2 linked regions of the Homo sapiens genome follow. The protein of the gene in region 1 binds, or shares a complex with, the protein of each later gene. Each region holds a gene or a part of one and is shown on either strand. Other genes may lie near its edges.

Evidence for each region.
Region 2: SYNCRIP (region 1) and GAPDH share a complex: the UniProt entries of both Homo sapiens proteins name them as parts of the GAIT complex.

The regions. Positions count from the first base shown.
Region 1 is NC_000006.12:85,616,029-85,632,307, reverse strand, and holds part of SYNCRIP (heterogeneous nuclear ribonucleoprotein Q), read left to right. Parts: intron 1-8,195; coding exon 8,196-8,331; intron 8,332-9,620; coding exon 9,621-9,826; intron 9,827-12,890; coding exon 12,891-13,040; intron 13,041-13,368; coding exon 13,369-13,490; intron 13,491-16,279. UniProt on the Homo sapiens protein: Heterogenous nuclear ribonucleoprotein (hnRNP) implicated in mRNA processing mechanisms. Component of the CRD-mediated complex that promotes MYC mRNA stability.
Region 2 is NC_000012.12:6,529,534-6,539,462, reverse strand, and holds GAPDH (glyceraldehyde-3-phosphate dehydrogenase), read right to left. Parts: upstream 4,947-9,929; 5' UTR 4,894-4,946; exon of another isoform or gene 4,654-4,893; 5' UTR 4,631-4,653; coding exon 4,602-4,630; intron 4,200-4,601; exon of another isoform or gene 3,994-4,199; intron 2,970-3,993; coding exon 2,870-2,969; intron 2,780-2,869; coding exon 2,673-2,779; intron 2,544-2,672; coding exon 2,453-2,543; intron 2,363-2,452; coding exon 2,247-2,362; intron 2,155-2,246; coding exon 2,073-2,154; intron 1,880-2,072; coding exon 1,467-1,879; intron 1,363-1,466; coding exon 1,293-1,362; 3' UTR 1,092-1,292; downstream 1-1,091. Other genes in the region: NCAPD2 (condensin complex subunit 1), read right to left, coding at 8,051-8,136, 8,387-8,542, 8,646-8,772, 9,505-9,688, 9,870-9,929. UniProt on the Homo sapiens protein: Has both glyceraldehyde-3-phosphate dehydrogenase and nitrosylase activities, thereby playing a role in glycolysis and nuclear functions, respectively.

The sequences.
Region 1 (16,279 bases):
ATTATTTATAGATCAGACAAGATTGAAGCACCTCTGTTTCTCTTTTGAGTGTCTGGAGGAATACCTTAGGTTGAAATAGTTTTAGGTATTTGGCATTGTCTTTTAATACTGATACAGCAATGAATAGTTTCTCTAGGTTAAATAGTACTGTAGACTTTATATTTGTATGTGGACTTATAAAAATGGGTTAATTGATGTTAACAGTTGAAGAGGCATGAAGTTAATTGAAAGCAACTTCAAGTTTCTTAAATGACCCTGATTCTAGCCAACATCTACCTTCATTTTGGGGAATGAAAAAAATCCATTTGTAAATGATGATAATCTAGCTAGGGAAGCATGATCTAAACTTGTGAAAAGGTGATTAATAGCTACTACTTGAGTGCTTGTTAAGGGACAGGAGCTTTGTTAGATGCTACGTTATCACCTTTAAATTCAGCCTCAACAACCCTTTCTGCCAGGTAGTAGAAAGAAATAGACTTGCCTGAGGCCATACAGCTAAACATCCCAGCCCTAGTTTGATGCCAGGTTTCTTTAGCTGAGGTCCCTATTGTTAGACATAACAATTTAAGCCAACTGTACAAGTTACGTCACCAGGTAGCCTGATAACTTTAAATTATGTAGTGGTTTAGGTAGTGTTAAAAGAGTTAAGGAAGTAGGTCCTATCTGTTGCCAAAATATTTTAGCATCTAACACTTTTTATCTTCTTCGCTGCTACTACCCTAGTTAGTCTAAGGTACCATTTGTACCATTCAGACTACTGAAGAAACTTAGCTAGTCTCACTGCCTTCTGTTGCCCTTTATATTTGGCAACATCAATTAGATCACAGCATTCCTGTGCTGAAAAATGACTTACAAACAAGGCCCTATCCAGACAAGTTCCTTCTTACCTCTTTCCCCACTCTTCCTTTTAATTACCCTTTTAGCCATGTTTCGCCTTCTTTAAGCCATGGCCTTTTTTTTTTTTTTTTGGAGACACAGTCATGCTTTGTCACCCAGGCTGGAGGGCAGTGGTGCGATCACAGCTCACTGCACCCTCTGCCTCCTGGGTTCAAGCAGTTCTGCCTCAGCCACTGAGTAGCTGGGATTACAGGTGTGTGCCACCACGCCTGGCTGATTTTTGTATTTTTAGTAGAGATGGCGTTTTGCCATGTTGGCCAGGCTGGTCTCGAACTCCTGACCCCAAGTGATTTGCCCGCCTCAGCCTCCCAAAGTACTGGGATTACAGGCGTGAGCCACCGTGCCCAGCCAAGCCATGGCCATTATCATTTTAAGGCTGCCTTCTGCTGTTCTGCTTTCGTAGGGGTTGAAAGCAGCCCATTTATGACTGATGCTTTCTTTTCAGGTAGGGTGACATTGAGCACCTTACCACCCAGTTGCCCCCATGACAGTATTCTAAGAATGATAAAATAGATTTTGCTTGGATGAGCTTGTAATTATTTTTTGACTTTGTAAATTATTTACATGTCTTTTCCCATTAGAATATGTATATATTTTTCCTTTTTCCCTAACATTTAGAACTGTGCCCCATTATGTAGTAGGTGTTGGATAAATAACCTGACTTGCTGACCAGTGCTCTCTAATATTCTTATGTAACTCATGGACCATTTGCTGTTTTAATAGCCTCCATTTACAATTCTGTGCTACTTACTGCCCTGTGATTAAGGTAAATTAGTAGGTGATGATGCTTTCTTCCCTTACCTACCTAGGGGTTGTTTGGAAATAGACATGTTGATTTAAAGACCATGAAGAAGGGCAGGCAGGTGTGTTTATGTATTTGTGTGGTATGTTGCTGGAATTGGAGCCCAAGGCTGGTGATGCTGCAATTCCATGACAATCTTAAATAACGGAAATATCCTGATGAAATGCTAATAATGTCTATGTACAAGCATTGGAATAGATGAAATCTGTTTGCACGTTACGATTTTTTTTGTTTGTTTGTTTGTTTTTGAGATGGAGTCTCGCTCTGTTGCCCAGGCTGGAGTGCAGTGGCACGATCTCGGCTCATTGCAAGCTCCACCTCCTGGGTTCACGCCATTCTCCTGACTCAGCCTCCGAGTAGCTGGGACTACAGGCGCCTGCCACCACACCCGGCTAATTTTTTTGTATTTTTAGTAGAGACGGGGTTTCACCGTGTTAGCCAGGATGGTCTCTATCTCCTGACCTCGTGATCCGCCTGTCTCAGCCTCCCAAAGTGCTGGGATTACAGACGTGAGCCACAGTGCCCGGCCCACAAGTTATTTTAATAGCTCTGATGGTTCTGATGGTTTTAGTCACCAGATTGGTTATGTATACTGTCATGATGTGTATACAGCTTTTTTTTTTTTTTGAGACAAATCCTCACTCTCAACGAGGCTGGAGCACAGCGGCGCTATCTCAGCTCACTGCAACCTCTGTCTCCTGGGTTCAGGAGATTCTGCTGCCTCGGCCTCCCGAGTAGCTGGGACTACAGGAGCCCGCCACCATGCCTGACTAATTTTGTTTTGTTTTGATATGAATCTCGCCTTGTTGCCCAGGCTGGATTGCAGTGGCATGATCTCGGCTCACTGCAGCCTCCGCCTCCCAGGTTCAAGCGATTCTTCTGCCTCAGCCTCCCGAGTAGCTGGGACTACAGGTGAGCACCACCACGCCTGGCTAATTTTTGTGTTTTTAGTAGAGATGGGGTTTCACCATATTGGCCAGGCTGGTCTCAAATTCTTGACCTCGTGATCCGCCCACATCGGCCTCCCAAAATGCTGGGATTACAGGCATGAGCCACCGCACCCGGCCCTTTTTTTTTTTTTTTTTTTTTTTTGTATTTTTAGTTTGTTGACCAGGCTGGTCTCAAACTCCAAACCTTCAGTGATCCATTTGCTTCGGCCTCATGAACAGCCATTTTGATGAATGTAGTTGACAAGGTAGGTTCAGAGATATTTTAATAATAATTTAGCAAATAGTGTGTTTAGCATGAAAACTTTTACTTCAGATATACAGGTTCTTAGAGAGTTTATAGAACATGAAAGACTACTGTTACAGTGGAATCCAGTGGTGCAAAGCGTAAAGGAAGGATGAAGGGAGACTGGATTAGGGTTGTCAGAGAAGGCTTTGCAATAAAGAGGTTTGAGCAGCACAGTGAAGAAAAAAGGTGAATCTAGTTGAAGCAGTGTTTTGTGGAAATAAAACTTGTAATAAAGTCAGTGCCAGGAGTTAGTTCATACTGGGCTAAGCTGCATAGCACCCCCCACCCCCTTTTTGAGCCCTGATGTGGGTGGCATGTTGTAAGTGGCTGAATAATGAAGATTATTTGAATAAAGACAATAAAGGCCAGGAGGAGGGTGGCAGCAATAGAAAGGAGAAAGATCGGAGATTTTGGAAAGAGAAATGAAAGGCCATAGTGGTATGCTGTAGGTTGTATTCTAGTTTTTATCAAGAATTGAAAGTGTAGTTGGACTGTTCATGATACGTTTGGTAACTTGAATCTCCATTCAGTGATAAATGCCTTGGATGACCGTCAGGATCTGAAAAACTTTTGATAGCCTGAGATAGAAAGTTTATATCTACCAAGATGGAATTGACTAAAGTTAAGTATTTACACTAGTTTAACAAGCTGTGGTGTCAGTAATGTGTGGTTGCCAAATAACCTAGGGTAACACAGACAATATGTAAGAGTGGTATGGTGTCTAGAAGTGGAAAATTAGTAATAAGCTCCAGTTTATTCTAGACTCCTGTTTCAGTCTGCGTTTACAGTATTGTGTTAGAATGTCACTCTTCAGTGACACTTGTCAGTATTTCTTGGAGGTACTTTAGTTTGCCATTATCAGGGAAGCAATGATTAGCCAAGCATAGAAAACAACTGAGTCATGTGCTTGTGTGCCAGGTATATGAAATGCTGTCATTTGGGGGAAAGAAATAGGTTTATTTAAGGAAGTAGATTTTGGCTTATTGTAAAGAAGACTTTATAATTAAGAAATCTTTAGGCCAGGTGCGGTGGATCATGCCTGTGATCCCAGCATTTTGGGAGGCTGAGGCGGGCGGATCACCCGAGGCCAGGAGTTCGAGACCAGCCTGGCCAACATGGTGAAACCCTGTCTCTACTAAAAATACAAAAATTAGCCGGGTGTGGTGGCACACGCCTGTGGTCCCAGCTACTAGGGAGGCTGAGGCAGGAGAATCACTTGAAACCGGGAGGTGGAGGTTGCAGTTAGCTGAAGTCGCGTCACTGTACTCCATCCTGGGTGTCAGAGTGAGACTCGGTCTCAAAAAGAAAAAAAAAAGAAATCTTCAATGTGGAAGGCTTTGGAGGTAGGGGCTTTGCTGAGAAGAGTTAGGACTAAGCAGCCTCTTCTGGATCAGATTCCAAATTTGACATTGCTGAATTTCTGGGAATTTGGTGACTATGAGGGAAGGACTTAAAAGTGACTTAAAATTTTGAGACTTGATGACAGGAACGTTCCAGACTGTACTACTGTTTTGGTGTTCTTAAAAACTGAAACCTCACATTGATTAATGATCATAATTAATCTTCATTTTCTATTTGGTTCATCTCAGCTGTGGTACTGAGCTTGAAGGCTAGATTTTTACAACTAACAAGATTCAGGGCCAACCTTTCTAGAGTAGGAAAGATAAGACTTTTTGTGTGTGTGTGCTCGTTTTTTTATACCACTGTAGTGTCCTGATACACTTCTTGAGTTAGGGTTTACTAGTATTAAATTAGAATCTCTTATTCACATTTGTTTTTTGTATTACACCATTCACCATATAACTCACTGTTACCCATCTTGCTGGGATAAGTGTTTTTTTGTTTTTGTTTTTTTTTAGGTGATAGAGTGGCATTAGTGTAAGAAAGGTTAAGCAATTCAAATACACGTACAAAAAAAGCATGCGTAATCCGTAGATGGGGTGTTGCTTCCGGAAATGTTAATTTCTAGGTACTACTTTTGTTATAGTTGTACCCAGAGTCTCCTTACTTTGTTCGCTTAATGACTTATTTTCATTGGAGAGCCAGTTGACTCTCTGTGTTACCTGTAATACAATTGTTCCAAGTTTTTTTTTTTTTTTTTTGTAGAGATGGAGTCTTGCTCTGTTGCCCAGGCTGGAGTGCAGTGGCGCGATCTGGGCTCACTGCAACCCCTGCCGCCCAGTTTCAAGTGATTCTCCTGCCTCAGCCTCCCGAGTAGCTGGGATTACAGGTGCCTGCCACCACTCCCGGCTAATTTCTTTTGTGTTTTAGTAGAGACGGCGTTTCACTGTGTTGCCCAGGCTGGTCTCGAACTCCTGAGCTTAGGCAATTCGCCCGCCTCAGCCTCCCAAAATGCTAGGAGTACAGGCATGAGCCACCGCGCCTGGCCCAAGTTTTTTAATTGAAAAAATGTGGGTAGGGAGGAATCAGCAGTTTATTTTATAGATCCTGCTAAATCTTTGTGTTATTTATGTTGTTCAGAGACCACATCCATCCTTTGTACTTTCTACCTACCATGCCTTGGCTAACTTGATTAGCATCAGGGCTAGTGATGATGGGTAAGAAGGAAAAAAATGGTGTTTCTGTAGATAATAATGGAAACAGTTATTAATAATTTGAAGCAGCATTGTTAATGTTGATGGTTAATGGAAGTGTTGCCTATGTTACAGATTAGCTGTCTTCTCTATATTTCTTTGATTATTGTTGCCTTGATGGAATGTTTCCATTCTCTGTTGTCTTGCCTTTGCCTCCTACATTTCTTATAAGGATTTTGGTTCCTCTCAATGGTGTATTTTCTTGGTAGAACTAAGAATTCAAGTTTCTGTTAGAAGTTTTTTTAGAATTAGGTATTTTCTTATAGTTAATAGCTCCTGATTTTAGAACATTTGGAAAATACCAGTTCCCCCCCTCATTATACCAAAATCTGTCACCCCCAAAATCACTCCTGTTTTTGCCTTTACACACTTGGTATTTCTTTCCACCTTTTTCTGGTATTTTAATTGTTTTTGTTAATTACTAGAATTACTGATTGCATGACCAATTTGAAAACCACTGATTTGTTGCTAAGGCTGGCTACTTGATGCTAGATTATAAGAATCCAGGGAATGTACATATTTTAAAGTAATTTATTGTGTTCTTAGTTTAATTTTACTTGCAAAATAAGGCATTATAATCTACTTGTCCATAATTCTGTGCAATGATGGATTCAGCCATAGCTCTGCTACATTCAGGTAACATGTTTCTGCTGTTAAAAGATTATTAGTCTGGTAGAAGAGAAAGACATGAATGCTATATGAGAAAACAAAGTATATGGCAGGAGTTTTTAACCTCAGCACTGCTGATCTTTTAGACTAGATAATTCTTTGTGACAGGCTGTCTTCTGAATTGTTAGATGTGTATCAGCATCCTTCTGTCTACCCAGTAGATACCAGCAGCAAGTCCCCACTTCTTTCCAAGTTGTGACAATCAAGAATGTCAAATGACTTCTGGGGGGCAAAATCACTCCTGTTGAGAACTGTTGGTCTGTGTTAACATGGAGGAGTATTTTGTTGACCCTTTTAGGATTTATGTATTGTAGTATTGGGTGGTTGAACTTAATTTACAGGTATCCAGAGGAGCTTGTATGGTAGAAGTTTCAGGGAAGGAAGGCAATTTCTTCAGAGCCATAGGAGTATAAAAATTGCATGTGGCCCAGCATGGTGGGTCACACCTGTAATCCCAGCACTTTGGGAGGCCGAGGCGAGTGGATCACAAGATCAGGAGTTTGAGACCAGCCTGGCCAACATGGTGAAACCCCGTCTCTACTAAAAATACAAAAAATAGCCGGGCATGGTGGCAGGCGCCTGTAATCACAGCTACTCGGGAGGTAGAGGGAGGAGAATTGCTTGAACCCAGGAGGCGGAGGTTGCAGTGAGCCGAGATAGTGCCACTGCTGCACTCCTGCCTGGGGGACAGAGCAAGACTCTGTCTCAGAAAAGACAAAAAAAAAAAAACCCTGTATGTTTAAGAGTTGATATAAAAAGGTATTTGAGAGAGAGAGGAGAAAGTAGCAGGAGTCATCTTTTTACTTTTTTTAATGTTGTGTCTCTGGCATAAATGTAGAGAAATAGAAGTAAACCTGGGATCAGGAGGGCCACACACTTGAATAGCCTGTACAGAATAGTGGGGTAGAAAGCAATAAATTTTTCTGAACTGGAGGTATGGTATTTGAACTTTATTAAATTTTGATTTTCTGGAGATGGGGAAGGGACAGGGAGGACTCAACTTTCTGACTTACATGTTTTCTTCTGTTATACCCGGTGTACCTAGCAAGGATGGGCATAATAGAAGAATGGTTTCTTTTGCTGTAAGGTATTTCTATAAAGTTGTATGGAAATTGATGTTGGTTCTTTAGTTTGTGTAGCTCCACGTGTAGAATAGATTTTGAGGTTAGGTGTGGGAGGATTAATCAATAATTATTGCCGCTGCTGCCGCCATTATTAGTAACAAATTTTGAGGTGTGGTTTTAACTAACCCATATAATCCACTTTTCTAGATTACTTGGATACTTTTGCACTTGGGTTTGTAAATAATACTAATTGGTGGATTTGTCACTTTGACATGTTGCTTTTTGCCTCTGCTTTCTGATAATCTGGGATATGGTTACTCGAAAATTCAATTTACTTTTTACTGTAGTTTTAAAGTTGTTTCTGTATATTTTTGCCATGACAAATCTACTTCTCTTTCTCCTTCATAATTTGTTATATGCATAATGAAAATGAAATGGGGAAAAAGTACAGTTGGATTTAGAAATAAAAGCTGTTTTTTTAGGCTTAAATATTTGAAGCCTGAAATTTCTTATTACAACTTTTGATAAGAGGAAGGGAAGATGGAAAAATAGATTTAGGTGCTGGTTAACAGAACGGCAGAGATCTTGCTGATCTTGGGATCAGTTTTCCTTGTATGAGAATAACTGGTTGATGGGATGAACTTAAGTAAAAGTTAAGTTTTTGAGGAACTGGCAGTTTTTGAATTTAAGCTGCTGCAGATCTGATTTCTAATTAATCAAGTAAAGGATTTAATAACCTTTTATTTGCATTAAATTGGTTCATGAACTTGTCCAATGGGTCTTGTTAATATAATCTGTTCCTCATAATTCCCTTGTATGGGAATTAAGGTAAACTACTTTTTAAAGGATGATTTGCTCTTGTGTATCTTTTATAATTAACTGTTCTAGTTGTATAAGTAATTTAAAAACATGATGCACTTTTTCCCCTTTCAGTATAATAATCATGAAATTCGTTCTGGAAAACATATTGGTGTCTGCATCTCAGTTGCCAACAATAGGCTTTTTGTGGGCTCTATTCCTAAGAGTAAAACCAAGGAACAGATTCTTGAAGAATTTAGCAAAGTAACAGGTAAGTTGGATTTATTTGGAATGAGGTGCAGCTTTTAATAATGAAGATTAATAGCATATTTCTGTGCGTCATGCATTGTTCTAAATACATTTATTGACTCATCGAATCCTCACTACAACTTTTGAAGTGTAGGTAACCCCATTTTTCAGATAAGAAGAACAGGCATTCAGGGATTTGGGAAATAACTTGCCAAACGTTGTACAAGTTAGTAGGGAATACAGCTAGGGTTTGAATTCATTCTGCAAAATCATTGTTCTTCCTATGTTTTGGAAGATCGTATTTCTTTGTGTGTTCTTTCTCTAGGTGTTAGTTGATGTTCTTAGTAGAATTGTTTGAATAATGATTTGATGTTCTTGAAATTACAGGAGTAGTAAGTATTGCCGTAGCAGAGTGTTTTTTTTTTTTTTTTTTTTTGGAGACAGTCTTGCTTTGTTGCCCAGGCTGGAGTGTGCTGGTGTGATCTTGGCTCCCTGCAGCCTCTGCCTCCCAGATTCAAGGGATTCTCTTGCCTCAGCCTCCTGAGTAGCTGGGATTACAGGCGCGCACCACCACACCTGGCTAATTTTTGCGTCTTTTGTAGAGGTGGGGTTTCACCATATTGGCCAGGCTGGTCTTGTACTCCTGACCTCAAGTGATCTGCTTGCCTCGGCCTCCCAGAGTGTTGCGATTACAGGTATGAGCCACCGTGCCTGGCCCATAAACAGAGTTTATATATTGTCAACATGGTAAAAAAATTTTTTGAACTGTAACAACTTTTAAGTGACAGGTTGCTTTTAGAAAATATTTTGGTCTGCCAACAGTGTCTAACAAATTATCAGCCTGTTATCAACTTTCAGGACATTGGAAATTTTTATGCAGTACTTATAACTTCTATTTTATTTGAAATAAAGCCATTGATATCTAAGGCCAGAAAAGTGCCATTAAAAATAATTTTAGTGTTTGCATAATAAGAAAAATAGCCATATTTGATCTATACTGCCATTTTCTTAGAACAATTATATGAAAATTTTTATCTGCCTCTCTGATCTAATTAGTGAAAACAAAAGTAGTCCTTACCTCTAAAAAGAGCACATGTTCTTTTCTGGAGATTTCTGTGTTGAAAAACTTGGAAACAGATTAGGAAAATAATCCGGACCTAGTTTTTGATAGTCTTTTATAAAGATGTCTAGTGAAGGAAAGAGATGATTTTTCATTTTGATATTTAAGTAGTATCTTAGATAAATCCTTTGATCCACTTGTATTTGCTAGTTATTTCATCTAATTTTCCTGGAATGGTTGCTTACTTGCAGAGGGTCTTACAGACGTCATTTTATACCACCAACCGGATGACAAGAAAAAAAACAGAGGCTTTTGCTTTCTTGAATATGAAGATCACAAAACAGCTGCCCAGGCAAGGCGTAGGTTAATGAGTGGTAAAGTCAAGGTCTGGGGGAATGTTGGAACTGTTGAATGGGCTGATCCTATAGAAGATCCTGATCCTGAGGTTATGGCAAAGGTAATGATAGTCAAGTTAAAAATATTTTTTGAGGGATTAATGGGAGAAGGGCCGGGGTTGGGGTGGGGGGAACATAAAATGAACAGTATACATTTTTTTATTTTTTGAGACAAGAGTCTCTTGTTTCCCATGTTTCCCAGGCTGGAGTGCCATGGTGCCATCTTGGTTCACTGCAACCTCCGCCTCCCGGGTTCAAGTGATTCTCCTGCCTCCCAAGTAGCTGGAATTACAGGCTCCCACCACCACACCTGGCTAATTTTTGTGTTTTTTTTAGTAGAGCTGGGGTTTCACCATGTTGGTCAGACTGGTCTCGAACTCCTGACCTCGGGATCCACCTACCTCGGCCTTCCAAAGTGCTGGGATTTAGAGGCGTGAGGCTATTGCACCTGGCCCTGGACACATTTTTTTTTAAACCATATTTTTAGAGTTGGGAGAAATGTTCTTTACTACGGGACTAGGCAGTGCGCACTGGAAATACCATGTGCCTGCAAAGTGAAAATAGAAATTGATGCGTGGATACTTAGCCATAATTGTATAGCCATCACAATCTTGTAATGAAGTCGCCTACATGCTGTAGACAGTTGACTTCCATTTTGTGTGTTTTTTAAGAGCAATTTGAGTTTTTGAGAATGGCACCATTAGTTTACATGGTTTTGGGGTTAAAAGTCTTACTACTAAAAACAGTAAATTATACTGGCCGCAGCAGAGGTGCTTGCAGTTACATTTAGCCATTATTAGGTATCCTGACTTCAGCAGTCAGTGGAGACATTGTATAAGAATAAACATCCCTTGAGTCAACACTTTATTACACACTGGTGCAGTAATTTGCAGTTATTTGTTCTATCCTTTGTTCTCTTTTTTTTTTTTTTTTTTTAAGTGACAGGGTCTAGATCTGTGGCCCAGGGCTAGAGTTCAGGGGCATGATCATAGCTGACTGTAGCCCCAAGCTCAAGAGATCTTCTCACCTCAGCCTCCCAAGTAGCTAGAACTACAGGTGTGTACTACCACACCTGGCTAATTTTTTTAAAAAATTTTGTAGAGGCAGAGTTAATCTCCCTGTGCTGCCCAGGCCGGTCTTACAATTCTTAGCCTTAAGCAATCCTGCTTCCCAAAATGCTGGGATTACAGGCATGAGCCACCATGCCCCAGTTATCCTTTGTCTTTTAAGAATTCCCTCTTTGTTACTTACAGGTTAGGTGTCAGACACCACTAGTTGAGTTAAATTGAGGGTAATATGAACTGCCAGGGAGCTATGAATATTATTGAAGGATAAGTGGTCTTAGAGAAGAGAAAATAGTTAGGATTCATTTTTCCTCTGGCCTATAAATTCTCATTGGGTTAGCACTTTAGATTAACACATTCAGATGGTATTCAAGTTATTTTAGGAGGAAGTGATAATGTTAGTGAAGAGGTTAAATTTTGTAATTTTACTTTGAGAAGCTTTCAGGATTGAGAACAGTTTGTCTTACTAATATTTTGAACAGTCCTTCCCCCTTTAAGATTTCAAAAGCAGGTCCTAATTAGTTTTGGCCACTCTTGTTAAGTGTTAAACATTCAATAACTCTCTTAGAGGGCATGGTATTTACTTTGTTAGGAAAAATTATCTTTTTTATTGCAAAATAATTACTAATTGGTAATTATTACTGATGTAGCCTGTAGTCTGCATTTTCTTTTTCATAGACTTCATTAGAGCAGTTTTAGGTTTACAGCAGAAAGCACAGAATTGCCATATGACTTCTGCCCCCTACACAGGCACAGCCTTCCTCACTACCAGTATCCTGCACTGGAATAGTACATTTGTTAAAATTGATGGACGTAGATTGATTACCTAAAGTCCATAGTTTACATGAGGTCTCACTCTAGATGTATGTTCTGTGGGTTTGGAGAAATGTATAACCGTGTTTCCATCATAGTATTATACAGAATAGTTTCACTGCCCTAAAAATCCTCTGTCCTGTGCTTAGTCATCCCTCCCCATTCAACCACTGGCAGTCACTGTCTCCATAGTTTTGCCTTCTCAGAATGTTACATAGTTGGAACCATACATTATGTAACCTTCACATTGGCTTCTTTCTCTTAGTAATACATATTTAAAGTTCTTCTATGTCATTTTGTGGCTTTTAACTAGTTTCTATCAGTTATAATATTCCTTCTGTATGTGCCACAATTGTCCATTCTCCCATTGAAGAACATCTTGGTTTCTTCCAATTTTTGGAAATTTTTTTGTTTTTCTTTTGAGACAGAGTCTCGCTGTGTTACCCAGGATGGAGTGCAGTGGCACGATCTCGGCTTACTGCAACCTCTGCCTCTTGGGTTCAACCATTTCTCATGCTTCAGCCTCCCGAGTAGCTGGAACCATAGTTGCGTACCATCGCACCCGGCTAATCTTTGTATTTTTGTAGAGACGGGGTGTTACTGTGTTGGCCAGGCTGGTCTCGAGCTCCTGACCTCAGGTGATCTGCCCGCCTCAGCCTCCCAAATTGCTGGGATTACGGGTGTGAGCCACTGCGTCTGGCAAATTTTTGGCAGTTACAAATAAAGCTGCTATTAACATCTCTCTCTAAGTTTTTGTGTGCATGTAAGTTTTCAACTCTGGGTAAATAAGGAGCAGGATTGCTGGGTCATATGGAAGTGTGTGTTTAGTTTTGTAAGAAATCGCCAAACTGTCTTTCAAAGGGGCTATACCCTTTTGCATTCCCACCAGCAATGAATGAGAGTTTCTATTGCTCTGCATTCTTACCTGCATTTATAGTGTGTTGGATTTTGGCCATTCTAATAGTTTTGACTTGCGGTTTCCGAATGACAGATTATATTGAGCATCTTCATGAGATTCTTTGCCATCTGTATATCTTTTTTGGCAAAGCATCTATTTCAGGTCTTTCAACATGATCCAGCAGTTCTGCTGCTTGATATTTACCCAAGGAGTTGAAAACTTTTTTTTTTTTTATATTCTGACATTCTTCTAATGGATTGTGATTTGAGTTAACTTTGTAGGGTGGGGTGGTGGTATCTTAGAAATGGAACTCTTTGGAAATAATACAGGGGGGTATTTTCTTCCCCCTAGGTAAAAGTGCTGTTTGTACGCAACCTTGCCAATACTGTAACAGAAGAGATTTTAGAAAAGGCATTTAGTCAGTTTGGGAAACTGGAACGAGTGAAGAAGTTAAAAGATTATGCGTTCATTCATTTTGATGAGCGAGATGGTGCTGTCAAGGTAAATATGGTGGAATTACAGGCATCTAAATCAGACTAACAAATTTAGTCATTTTAGAATCTCAAAATAGTTTTACAAATTGGAGGAGACTTTGGAAGTCCATGGAATCCATTCAAACTAAAACCTTTTGGTTTTAGTGATGTTGGCAGTTTTCTAAGTAAAAATGAAAAATAATTGAATATCTGCATCTTTAAATAAAATTATTTGACTGCCTGCATGGGGCTTTCTCTTGTCCTTCCCACATTAATGATAAATGATATTCCAACTTTAAATGAATCATAATTGTATGAAAGTCCTATTTTTATATTGACTTATCTAATTTTTTAAGGCTATGGAAGAAATGAATGGCAAAGACTTGGAGGGAGAAAATATTGAAATTGTTTTTGCCAAGCCACCAGATCAGAAAAGGAAAGAAAGAAAAGCTCAGAGGCAAGCAGCAAAAAATCAAATGTGAGTGAAATTTGTATACTTAAAAATTGTATAAATTTTAATATTTATACACTAATTGGAAAATAACAGGTGTTGATCAGACTTGTTAAATGCATAACATCTCTTTAAAGAAGACTTGAACGTTTGAGAGTCATAGGGAAACACCAGTGATCTAAGTGTTTATTGAACTCTTACTATGAACCATATTTGTGAAAATAATCAGAATTGTAAATAACTGGAATTTTGGTAAATTGGCAAGATGAAAAATCTGTCTAGCTTTTTTTTTGTTTTGTATTGGGTGACAGAGTCTCACTTTGTCACTCAGGCTGGAGTGCAGTGGCACTCTTTCGGCTCACTGGAACCTCCACCTCCCGGGTTCAAGAGATTCTCCTGCCTCAGTCTTCTGAGTAGCTGGGTTACAGGCGCCACCATGCCTGGTAATTTTTGTGTTTTTTTTTTTAGTAGGGGTGGGGTTTCGTCATGTTGGCCAGGTTGGTCTCAAACTCCTGACCTCAGGTGATCCGCCCACCTCTGCCTCCCAAAGTGCTGGGATTACAGCTGTGAGCCACCATGCCTGGCCTATCTCACATATTTTCTTTGTATTTTACAGAATGTTCTTCTGAAAATGTCTTAAATATTAGCTGTCCAAATATCTTAATACATTTTGTTAAAGGGTGGAGAGTTTTTTCTCTGAGAGATAGGAAATACTAAATCTCTATTCATGATAGACTGTTTCTTCACCAGTAGTGCTCATTGCCACCCCAAAAATTTCATGTTCGATGGATGGATTTTGAAAATGAAATGAGTATTAAAATTATAACACAGTAGTGCAATAAGAAAACAAGTAGGTGTGTAATGAGTTATACTAATTAGGGAGACCTTTTTAGAGAATCTGTAAATAGGTATCTGCTTAAGACTGAAGGAAACTTAGTTGGGTAAGAATTGAAGTTAGCTCCTAAAAAGTTAGTTACTGATTTCCTAGAAGAGGGGTAATTGTTCTTGAATGTGAGAGCAATAATCACTGTCAATACTATTCAAGGTTAATTTTCTGTTGATTGCCCTGTTTGGAATTTAAAGGAAGAGGATGCTTCTACATATTTCTGTTACTTCATAATCAGGGAATTGATCAAGTTCTAGTTTCTGCAGTTAATTGTCCAGTTGGACAAGTTGGCAAGCTCTGAACCTCAATTTCTTCAGTTCTAAAATGGGATCAGACAAAATTATGTAATAGCTCTGGATTATGTGATTATCCAAGTGACCCATGCTTGTTCTGGGACCAAAGAAAATATACTTTGTAGGTTTGATGATAGTGTAAATGAAGGAAGACTACAAAAAGAGTTAGTTTTAATGCTCTATATTTCAAACACCTGGATATACTAAACAGTGTAAAATAACTTCTTTTTATTTCTTTCAGAAGACGATATATGGTTAATTTATTAAAGTAGAATGTAAGTATAGGAGATTATATTAGATAATGTGATTAGAGCAGTTACATTTGGTACTTGATAGAGGGAGATACTAAATAGAAGGTGGAGGATGTCAGTATATCTGTTAATATTTGAAAAGGAGTACAAACTAAAAGGGATGATTGCATGTTACTTTCGTACTTTAACTTGCTACAGTCTTTTTTTTTTTTTTTTTAAGTTTTAACTAAGCACGTATTCCTACATAATTCTCACTGTATTCCTGTGAGTTAGGTACTCTATCCCTTAGTTTGAAATGAGGAAACTGAGGCTCAGAAGTCAACTTCCTTGGGGTCATTCACATAGTAAGTAGTGGAGTTGGATTTGAACTAAGGTAGTCTAGTCTCCCATAATTTTCCCTCTTAACCACTATACCAGGATTTCTCATCTCTGTCCTCCTGACATTTTGGGCTGGATAATTCTTGGTCTTGGGGGCTGCCCTGTGCGTTGTAGGACTTTTAGCAGCATCCTTGGCCTCTTCCTGCTAGATGCCAGTAGCACCCCCTTTCTCAGTTATGACCGTCTAAAATGTCCCCCTGGAAAGAGGTGGTGGCAAAATTATCCCTGGTGAGAACTATTTAGAAATAGAAAAGGATGATCTTTCCATCATTTCCTCAAAACAATAAACCAGCAGAGCACATAAAAGGTCTAAGGACCTAGTGAACCGGAATAACATTTTTACGTTAGTCAGTTGGAACAGGGGCCTTTAATAATTCAGGATAAAATAAGGCCGGGCGTGGTGGCTCATGCCTGTAATCCCACCACTTTGGGAGGCTGAGGTGGGCAGATCACTCTAGGCCGAGGTGGGTGGATCATTCGAGGTTAGGAGTTCGAGACCAGCCTGGCCAACATGGTGAAACCCCATCTCTACTAAAAATAAAAATTGGCTAGGTATGGTGGCACATGCCTATAGTCCCAGCTACTCGAGAGGCTGTGGCAGGAGAATCACTTGAACCCAGGAGGTGGAGGTTGCAGTGAGGTGAGATTGCGCCACTGCATTGCAGCCTGGGTGACAGAGCAAGACTGTGTCTCAAATAAATAAATAAATAAAATAACATAACAGGTACGGAATAAAAAACACGAGTAAATTATTCCTTCAAGAGGGATTAATTTCCATATTTCATGGGATTATTGGGCTCAAAATAATCACTAAGTTTTAAGGAATTGTATAAAATTGTACTGTAGGGAACATGAGTTGGAATATTGTAACTTCGTTTAGTCCTTTTACATAGTATGTAAGCATATGCTGATTTGTGTGGTTGCTTTCTAATCACTTTGACAACTAAAGTTATACCTGTTTAGTGGTTAAAGTTCAGCACTATAGTTACGGTGTAGTTTATTTTTGGG
Region 2 (9,929 bases), on another chromosome or scaffold:
TTTTTTTTTTGAGATGGAGTCTCATACTCTGTTGCCTAGGCTGGAGTGCAGTGGTGTGGTCTCAGCTCACTGCAGCCTCTGCCTCCGGGGTGCAAGCGATTCTCCTGCTTCAGCATGCCTGTAGCTGGGACTATAGGCATGTGCCATGAAGCCTGGCTGATTTTTGTAATTTTAGTAGAGACGGAGTTTCACCATGTTGGCCAGGCTGGTCTCAAACTCCTGACCTCAGGTGATACACCCACCTTGGCCTCCCAAAGTGCTGGGGTTACAGGCGTGCGCGCTCTACCGAGGTATGTACTTTTGTCTCCACTAGGTAAGCACACGTGCAAAGTGAGGCCCGGGAGTAACTGCCCAAAGCAACTGAGCCGTTCAGTGGCAGAGCCAGGGGTCTGGACCTAGGTCCCAGCTACACGCCTTGCCCCTACCCAAGTTCCCCTAAGGACGATGATGGAAATAAGTCACCCTGACACATCTCAGTTCATCTTCCTCAAAACTATGCGAGGTGGGCATTTTTACCGATTTTTAAACATTATATAGTCCTTACCGCCTTGGGCATGGTTTTAGGTACTTGGTTTACCTAGATGAATCCTGCTTGAAGACCTTAGGGGCTGGCCACGATGTCCTCAGATAAGACACGAGGGCACAGAAAGCAATAGAGCACGTGCTCAAGACCTCACAGCTGCGGAGGCCAAGCTGGAATTGCCCGCTGCAGCTCAGCTCCAGGCTGAGCTCCACTAACCAGTCAGCGTCAGAGCCCAGTGCGAGCCCTGACTTCCTCCACCTGTCAGCCTCCCTGGGGCTGCCCACAGAATAGCTTCTTCCATGTTTGGCCAACAGCAGATAGCCTAGGACTGGAGCGAGGAGAGGAAAAGGCCTTGTTCTCTGAAGTAGTGGTGCCAGCTTCCTGTAGCACTCAAGACGTCTGAGCGGGAAGCAAATGGTTCTCGAAGCAAGCAAGGCTGTTTGGAGGCCCTACCCTCAGTCTGAGGAGAACATACCAGGTCCCTCCCCAGCAAGAATGTCTCACCTTGACACAAGCCCAGCTTCCCTCCCCTCTGCCCCAGACCCTAGAATAAGACAGGACAAGTAACTGGTTGAGCACAGGGTACTTTATTGATGGTACATGACAAGGTGCGGCTCCCTAGGCCCCTCCCCTCTTCAAGGGGTCTACATGGCAACTGTGAGGAGGGGAGATTCAGTGTGGTGGGGGACTGAGTGTGGCAGGGACTCCCCAGCAGTGAGGGTCTCTCTCTTCCTCTTGTGCTCTTGCTGGGGCTGGTGGTCCAGGGGTCTTACTCCTTGGAGGCCATGTGGGCCATGAGGTCCACCACCCTGTTGCTGTAGCCAAATTCGTTGTCATACCTAGAAGATGAAAAGAGTTGTCAGGGCCCTTTTTCTGAGCCAGCCACCAGAGGGCGCCAGACCCTGCACTTTTTAAGAGCCAGTCTCTGGCCCCAGCCACATACCAGGAAATGAGCTTGACAAAGTGGTCGTTGAGGGCAATGCCAGCCCCAGCGTCAAAGGTGGAGGAGTGGGTGTCGCTGTTGAAGTCAGAGGAGACCACCTGGTGCTCAGTGTAGCCCAGGATGCCCTTGAGGGGGCCCTCCGACGCCTGCTTCACCACCTTCTTGATGTCATCATATTTGGCAGGTTTTTCTAGACGGCAGGTCAGGTCCACCACTGACACGTTGGCAGTGGGGACACGGAAGGCCATGCCAGTGAGCTTCCCGTTCAGCTCAGGGATGACCTTGCCCACAGCCTTGGCAGCGCCAGTAGAGGCAGGGATGATGTTCTGGAGAGCCCCGCGGCCATCACGCCACAGTTTCCCGGAGGGGCCATCCACAGTCTTCTGGGTGGCAGTGATGGCATGGACTGTGGTCTGCAAAAGGAGTGAGGCCCTGCAGCGTACTCCCCACATCACCCCTCTACCTCCCTCCCCACCTTGAAAGGAAATTATGGGAAAGCCAGTCCCCAGAACCCCCAACCCCAGGGTTGCACGCAGCCCCGGCAGGGAGGAGCCAGTCTTGGATGAGAAAGGTGGGAGCCTCAGTCCCATTCCCCAGCTCTCATACCATGAGTCCTTCCACGATACCAAAGTTGTCATGGATGACCTTGGCCAGGGGTGCTAAGCAGTTGGTGGTGCAGGAGGCATTGCTGCAAAGAAAGAGGGAGCGGGGCGCAAGTCAGGGGAGCGTGTCCATAGGGTGCCAGGCTGGCCGCTTCTCCACGGGCCCTGCCTTCCTCACCTGATGATCTTGAGGCTGTTGTCATACTTCTCATGGTTCACACCCATGACGAACATGGGGGCATCAGCAGAGGGGGCAGAGATGATGACCCTTTTGGCTCCCCCCTGCAAATGAGCCTACAGCAGAGAAGCAGACAGTTATGAACCCGGGTCCTGCCTTTGCAGGGCTGAGTCAGCTTCCCCTCCCGCGGGCCCTCCTGCACTCACCCCAGCCTTCTCCATGGTGGTGAAGACGCCAGTGGACTCCACGACGTACTCAGCGCCAGCATCGCCCCACTTGATTTTGGAGGGATCTCGCCTATGGGGGTGGGGGGGAGATGGGGACAGGACCATATTGAGGGACACAAGGTTACCATATACCCAAGGGAGCCACACCATCCTAGTTGCCTCCCCAAAGCACATTTCTTCCATTCTGTCTTCCACTCACTCCTGGAAGATGGTGATGGGATTTCCATTGATGACAAGCTTCCCGTTCTCAGCCTTGACGGTGCCATGGAATTTGCCATGGGTGGAATCATATTGGAACATGTAAACCTGGGGGAATACGTGAGGGTATGAAGGGGCTGCCCATCAGCCAGGTGGCTCCTCCCACACCAGCTTTGGGGCTCACCATGTAGCACTCACCATGTAGTTGAGGTCAATGAAGGGGTCATTGATGGCAACAATATCCACTTTACCAGAGTTAAAAGCAGCCCTGGTGACCAGGCGCCCAATACGACCAAATCTAAGAGACAAGAGGCAAGAAGGCATGAGGAGGGGAGGCTCCTCCAGAATATGTGAGCAGCCCTAGGCCACCTCCCCATTAAGAGGGCGAATGCAGCATCTCCTTACCCCCAGGAGGGCCCAAGAGGTTGAATTTTATCTCCCTTGAGCTTCCCTGCCAGGCTGGCCTGGCTTAAGGCATGGCTGCAACTGAAGGCTCCAGGGCTGCCCAACACCCCCAGTCATACGAAGCCCTTCCAGGAGAAGCGGCCATGTGGGGCACTGCCACCCACAGTCTGGGCACAAGCTTTGTACATGGTATTCACCACCCCACTATGCCACCCCAGGAATGCTTGCTGCTGCCTAGCTCAGCTGCACCCTTTAGGGAGAAAACGCTTGTACACTCAGCATCATCAAACTCAAAGGGCAGGAGTAAAGGTCAGAAATTAACTGGACAGGGCAAGCCCACCCCTTCTCTAAGTCCCTCCTACAAAAGGGACAGAGACTGGGGCGGGTGGGAAGAGGGGAAGCTGTATTTTAACCCCCTAGTCCCAGGGCTTTGATTTGCCAAGTTGCCTGTCCTTCCTAGCTCTTTTCCAGAAATCAGGAGTGGGAGCACAGGTAAGTGCATGTGTGTGGGGAGAAGGGATGGGAGAGAGCCCCAGCCCAGGCCCCCAGCTACAGAAAGGTCAGCAGCTATATTTAACCTCAGACCAGGGTGCGGTGGGAGATCTGGTTTCCGGAAGACGGAATGGGGAGAAGGGCAGGTTCCCCGAGGCGCCCAGACACCCAATCCTCCCGGTGACATTTACAGCCTGGCCTTTGGGGTCGGGTCAACGCTAGGCTGGCAGGGGAAGGGCGGGGCCGTGAGGTGAGCCGGCGCTGCAGGAAGGGGCCACCACCAGAGGGGCCATTTTGCGGTGGAAATGTCCTTTTCCAACTACCCATGACTCAGCTTCTCCCGGCTTGGCACCATGCCACAGCCACCACACCTCTGCGGGGAGGGGACACAAGAGGACCTCCATAAACCCACTTCTTTGATTTACCAGAGAATAATCTAGGAAAAGCATCACCCGGAGGAGAAATCGGGCCAGCTAGCCTCGCTCCACCTGACTTCCCCGCCACACGCGACTCCACCCATCGAGGCAGGAGCGCAGGGTTAGTCACCGGCAGGCTTTCCTAACGGCTGCCCATTCATTTCCTTCCCGGTTGCAACATGGCGGCCGCTCTACCGCAGGCGCAGCATCCGGACAGGGATGCACCCGCTGCGCACTAGCATCCCGGGGCCTGCGGTGCCGGAGGCCGTGGGGGAGGGGCTCCTCTGCGACACGTGACCCCGCAGAGCGCGAAAGGAAAGAAAGCGTCCCCCACCTAGGGGTCCGGGTCGGGATCTCGGGCGGGAGTAGGGACCTCCTGTTTCTGGGGACTAGGGGAAGGAGGCTCCGGGCAGATGGCGCCGCAAGGGCGGAGCTGCACAGGGCGCCACAGCCTGGGTGCGGGGCTCCGCCAGGTCCGAGCGCTGACCTTGAGCTCTCCTTGCGGGGAACAGCTACCCTGCCCCCATACGACTGCAAAGACCCGGAGCCCGCAAGGCTCGTAGACGCGGTTCGGGGGCGGTCGCAGCCCAGGGCCCCCCAGCCACCCGCGAACTCACCCGTTGACTCCGACCTTCACCTTCCCCATGGTGTCTGAGCGATGTGGCTCGGCTGCGCGGAGGGAGAGAACAGTGAGCGCCTAGTGGCCCCGGCCGACACACACGCCTCCCCTCCCCTCCCCCACCAGGCCTCCATGCCCAGCCCGCGCCGCATCACGTCCTCCGCCCGCCCCTGCAATGCGGAGGCCGCCCGGGCCCACCCCGCAGCGGCGCGAACACATCCGGCCTGCGCCCGCCCCTGCCGCCTTCAGGCCGTCCCTAGCCTCCCGGGTTTCTCTCCGCCCGTCTTCACCTGGCGACGCAAAAGAAGATGCGGCTGACTGTCGAACAGGAGGAGCAGAGAGCGAAGCGGGAGGCTGCGGGCTCAATTTATAGAAACCGGGGGCGCGGCGGCAGGCGGTGACTCGGACCCCGCCTCCCGCCAGGCTCAGCCAGTCCCAGCCCAAGGTCTTGAGGCCTGAGCTACGTGCGCCCGTAAAACCGCTAGTAGCCGGGCCCTACTTTCTCCCCGCTTTTTTTTTTCCGCAGCCGCCTGGTTCAACTGGGCACGCACCGAGCGTGTGGGCCCCGACGTAGGGGGGAAGGGACTGAGATTGGCCCGATGGGAGGTGATCGGTGCTGGTTCCCAGGACTGGACTGTGGGCAGCAGGACACTAGGGAGTCAAGGACGGGGACCCTTACACGCTTGGATGAAACAGGAGGACTTTGGGAACGACTGAGATGGGGAATTGGAGCCGGAGCCCAGCACCGCTCGCGGCTGCACGCGGCCTGCCCCCTCCCCTTTCTTTCTTTCAAAGGCTGAGAGGCGGGAAAGTTGGGGAACTTCTCCTCGAGGCTCTGCGGTAGTGACACCGGACTGCTCAGGCAAAGGCCTAGGAGGGGCCCATGGGCCTCGGGCGGGGGCCCGTGGTTCCTTCCCAGCCCCCACTTCCCCCTCCCCATCTCCTGGCTCCTGGCATCTCTGGGACCGAGGCCTGGGCTGGGCACTGGGCACTGGGCACTGGGGGCCTGGAGAGGAAGGAGGCTCGGGAGGCGGCTTGAGGGGGAGGGGGAGGTTTCTGCACGGAAGGTCACGATGTCCTGCAGCCCTGTAGCCTGGACCTGATAATTAGGGCAGACAATCCCGGCCCTGTGTGCACCAGCGGCTCTCTCCGGGCTGGGGCCCCAGGCGGAGGACAGGATGGCTGGTGGGGGCCCAGAGGCCTCCCACAAAGGCACTCCTGGAAACCTGTGGGCTGTGCTGCCTAGGGAGAGAGACAGTGTGCCTTTCATTCCATCCAGCCTGGGGCGAAGAGCGGGACGTGAGGGCGGAAGTCCCTCCCCGCCCTGGGACGTGCAGGCGAGCCAGGAGCCAGGGACTCCCTTTCACTGGCTGCGCCGGGGGATATTGAGGGCAGGGTGAGTCAAGAAGAGGGAAAAAGTGGGAAAAGAGGTCTTGGGCACACGGTGGGAACAGGTCCCCTGCCCCCTCCCACAGGGGATCCATTCTTCTGGTAGGAGGGCAGAGGGCCAGGTTTGTGAGTGTGGGATGGGAGGGTGCTGAACACTTGTAAGGAAGGGGGTGGGGTGGGGTGGCCTTGGCCCATCAGCAGGTGCATGGGAGGGGGATCCCGGGCCTCTTTGCTGGCCCAGCATAACCTGACACCAGCCCCCTGCCCTTCTAGCTAAAAGCCGGTTGCTAAGTTTAGCCTGCCTGGTGATAATCTTTGCTTAAAAAGCACCCACAGGACTCCAGTCCCTGACCCTGCCTTTCTGGGATTGCCTTTCCTGCTGGGACCCAGAGCCAGGCTGTGTCCTCGTCTGGCTGCCACTGGCATGGTTGGTGCGGGCTTTTCACAATGACCACCCAGAGCAGAGTAGCAAGAGCAAGGCAAGAAGGTCCCTAATGGTGAAAGGGGTGGGGTGGGGGAGTGGAGGAAGCCCCACCTCTGACTCAGCTATTCCTGCAACCAGGACCGTTAACCCTTTCTCATTGAGAGCATTAAGAGCACCTCCATGCTCCTGCACCACCCAAGCGTGATCTTCCCCTCTGCCTCATGCTTGTCATTTTTCATTACTGTCTTCTCCCCGCAAAGAGGGAGCTCAGTGCCCAGGGAGCACTACTGACGTAGTGTGCTGTTGTCATGACAGCAGAGGCACCAGTGTGGTCACGACAGCCAGCTCACAGCCTCCGGTTCGAAGGTGACTCAGCAGAGAAGACTTGAGGAGCTGGAGAGGGGTGCGCAGGCTTCAGGGGGCAGCCCGCCTGCAGCATAGCTCACGCCCTCTGCAGACCCGGGAACAATGAGGAATGCTGGGAGACAGGTCTTGTCTCCTGCAGAGCTGGAGGGGATCATGATCTGAACTTCCACGAGCCTGGGCCGGTCTGCTGCCAACCTTTGGAGATGGGATTAGGGAACACGAGTGGGGGTGGGGTGAGGCACACGGCAGAAAGCAACCCTTGGTCTAGAGCAGGTTTTCTCAACTGTGACGCTATTGACATTGTGGGCCGTGTGATTCTTTGTTGAGGGGCCATCCTGTGCACTGCAGGATGTTGAGCCACATCCCTGGCCTCTTCCCACAAATGCTGGTAGCATTCTTCCCCTATAGGCTATGACAACAAAACAGGCCCCAGGTGTTGTCAGATGTCCTCTGGCAGACAAAATTGCCCCCGGTTCAGAAGCACTGATCTGGAGCCTAGGCACTGCATAATTCTCCCCAGAGAGGCTGTCTGGTCACTGTGCAGGGTCCAGAGGTTGAGAGGGGAAAGGTGGCAGTGACGGGGCAGGAAGCTCATCTGCCATCCCGGGACAGGCCCTAGGACTCTGGGCTCACTCATCTCTCTCTGCACTGATAACCCTCTCTCTGCTGCATGAAACTGGGCTAATGTGAAAGATGAAACAAAGACAAGCTTAGGAAAAAATGTCTAAAAGTATATAAAAACATTTATTCATTAGAAAACAAGGAGATTGGCAAACATATATTCCAAAGTTGAAGCAGCTCAACGCAGTTCAGTTAGGCTAATTTAAGAGAAAGCCTTGCATTTTAAAGAGCGTGTAGGCATTTTTTTTTTAATTTGAGATGGAGGTTCGCTATTGTTGCCCAAGCTGGAGTGCAATGGTGTGATTTCGGCTCACTACAACCTCCGCCTCTGGGTTCAGGCGATTCTCCTGCCTCAGCCTCTTGAGTAGCTGGGATTACAGGCGCACGCCAATACGCCCGGCTAATTTTTTATTTTTAGTAGAGATGGGGTTTCTCCATGTTGGTCAGGCTGGTCTCGAACTCCCTACCTCAGGTTATCCACCCGCCTTGGTATCGCAAAGTGCTGGGATTACAGGCGTGAGCCACAGTGCCCGGCCTTTTTTTTTTTTAAAAAAAAGAGACAGACAAATATTTTACAAGGGAAACAGAATTCGAATTCCAGGTCACCCTACAGGATACCCTGCACAGGGAGGACAGGAACAGACTTCCTAGGATCTGTGCCTGCGAGCCGATGCTCTGAGAATGGGAGTTGTTTTCTTGGGTGTCTCGTCTTCTGTCATCTCTGCTGAAAGATCTATGCAAAGAATTAAAGGAATAAGAAAAAGCTGAGTCACAAAGATGGTGAAAAAATAGATATCAGAGAACAAGTGAGACAATCCCACACCGCACAGAAGAAATAAAATCCAAGCTGTACAGGAGAGGCCCTTCTGCGGCAGTGGGGCAGAGCATCTACACTCAGGCCCCCGCAGCAGGTCCTATGGAAACCAGCCCTCTGCACCCTAGCTGTGTGCCTTCTCGGCCGGGAACAGGCGGGAGCATCATACCTTCCTCACTGGACTCATCACTTGAGAAGACAACTTTGGGTTTCTTTTTGGAAGCTCGCTGCTGGGTGTTTGGATGCCGACGGGTAGTACGGCGGGGCTCTGGTGTGACAAAGTCATTGTCTGAGGCTGTAGAAGCCAGAGGCTGGTACCTAGAACCTAGAAAAGGCAGGAAAACGTGATTTAAAAAAGAAGAAGAAACAAATCACTGCAGGAGGGGAGGGCCCAGTCTGGTCTCGCCCGCACAGGCTGCCTTACGTACCAGTGGATGGTTTCTTGGCTGATGGCGCTCTCTGGCTACCTGCTTGGCCAATCTCAAGCTCCTTGATTCCATCCAAACCTCTGGTATGACAGGCCCGAAGCTTCTGCTCAAATTCATCTATTATAGCCTGGAGGGAGAAAAGGAGATTCAGAGCAGGCCTGAAAACAGTTACTTCTGATTAAAAAGAAACAAGGCCATGGAAGACATGGAGGCCTTAAACGCACATTACTAAGAAGCCAAGGTGAGAAGGCTCCATACCGGATCATTCCAATGATACATTCTGGAAAAGACAAAGTGATGGCAACAGTAAAAAGATCAGGGGTTGTGGGGAGAGAGGGATAAATAGGTGGAGTGCAGGGGATTTGTAAGGCAGTGAAACTCTTCTGTATGATACTGCAATGGTGGGTACATGTCATTACGTGCAGTGAACTCCAAGGTAAACCATGACTTTAGGAGATGATGTGTAAGTGTAGGTTCAGCTGTAACAAATGTGCCACCCTGGTGCAGGATGTTGAAGGTGGGGAAGGCTGTGATGTGTAGGGGCAAGGGGTAGAAGGGAACTCCCTGTACTTTCTGCTCAATTTTGCTTTGAACCTAAAACTGCTCTGAAAAATAAAAACTATTAAAAACAAACAAACAAGAATTGGATGAGATGCTGCTTTGGTTGTGTTTTTGGAGTAATAAAAAAAGAACTGGAGACAAAGATCTGGTCTTAGGTCACTCTGGCAATTTGGTTGCAACCCAGCTGGGGATAAGGAGGACGGGAAGGTGACTGCAAGAGCCGTATGCTGCCCAGGGCCGGCAGATGTCTTAGCCAGCCCAGAACCCAACAGGCATTGAAGTGTCCTGTGCTGCTCACCTTGCCCTCAGGCTTGGCCCCACGTCGCAGCTTGCCTACAACTGACAAAAAAGCACTGAAGATGGACTCATCTGACAGTTTGTCTCCAAAACAGTCAAAATTGTCAAGCATCTTACGGAGGCCTCGCTCTGTGAGGGGCAGCTGTGACACACAGTAGGCCAGGTCTCGCTGCTGCCGCTCAGTTCTGCAGATAGGAAGGGCTTTGTGAGGAACTGGGAGATCCAGCTAGTAAAGGCTCAACCTTCCCCATCAGCCTCCCCAGTCCCAGGGATGCCACAGTGGGGGCATTGAAGGGGTGAGGGATGGGCCTTTCTCCCCTGCAGGGCCCCGCTCAGCACAAAGAACCCTCAGGGAGGGCAGCATACCGGGATGTGCGGAACCGCTGACACAGCTTTTCCACCAGGCTCTCTGTCTGCTTGTCCTTG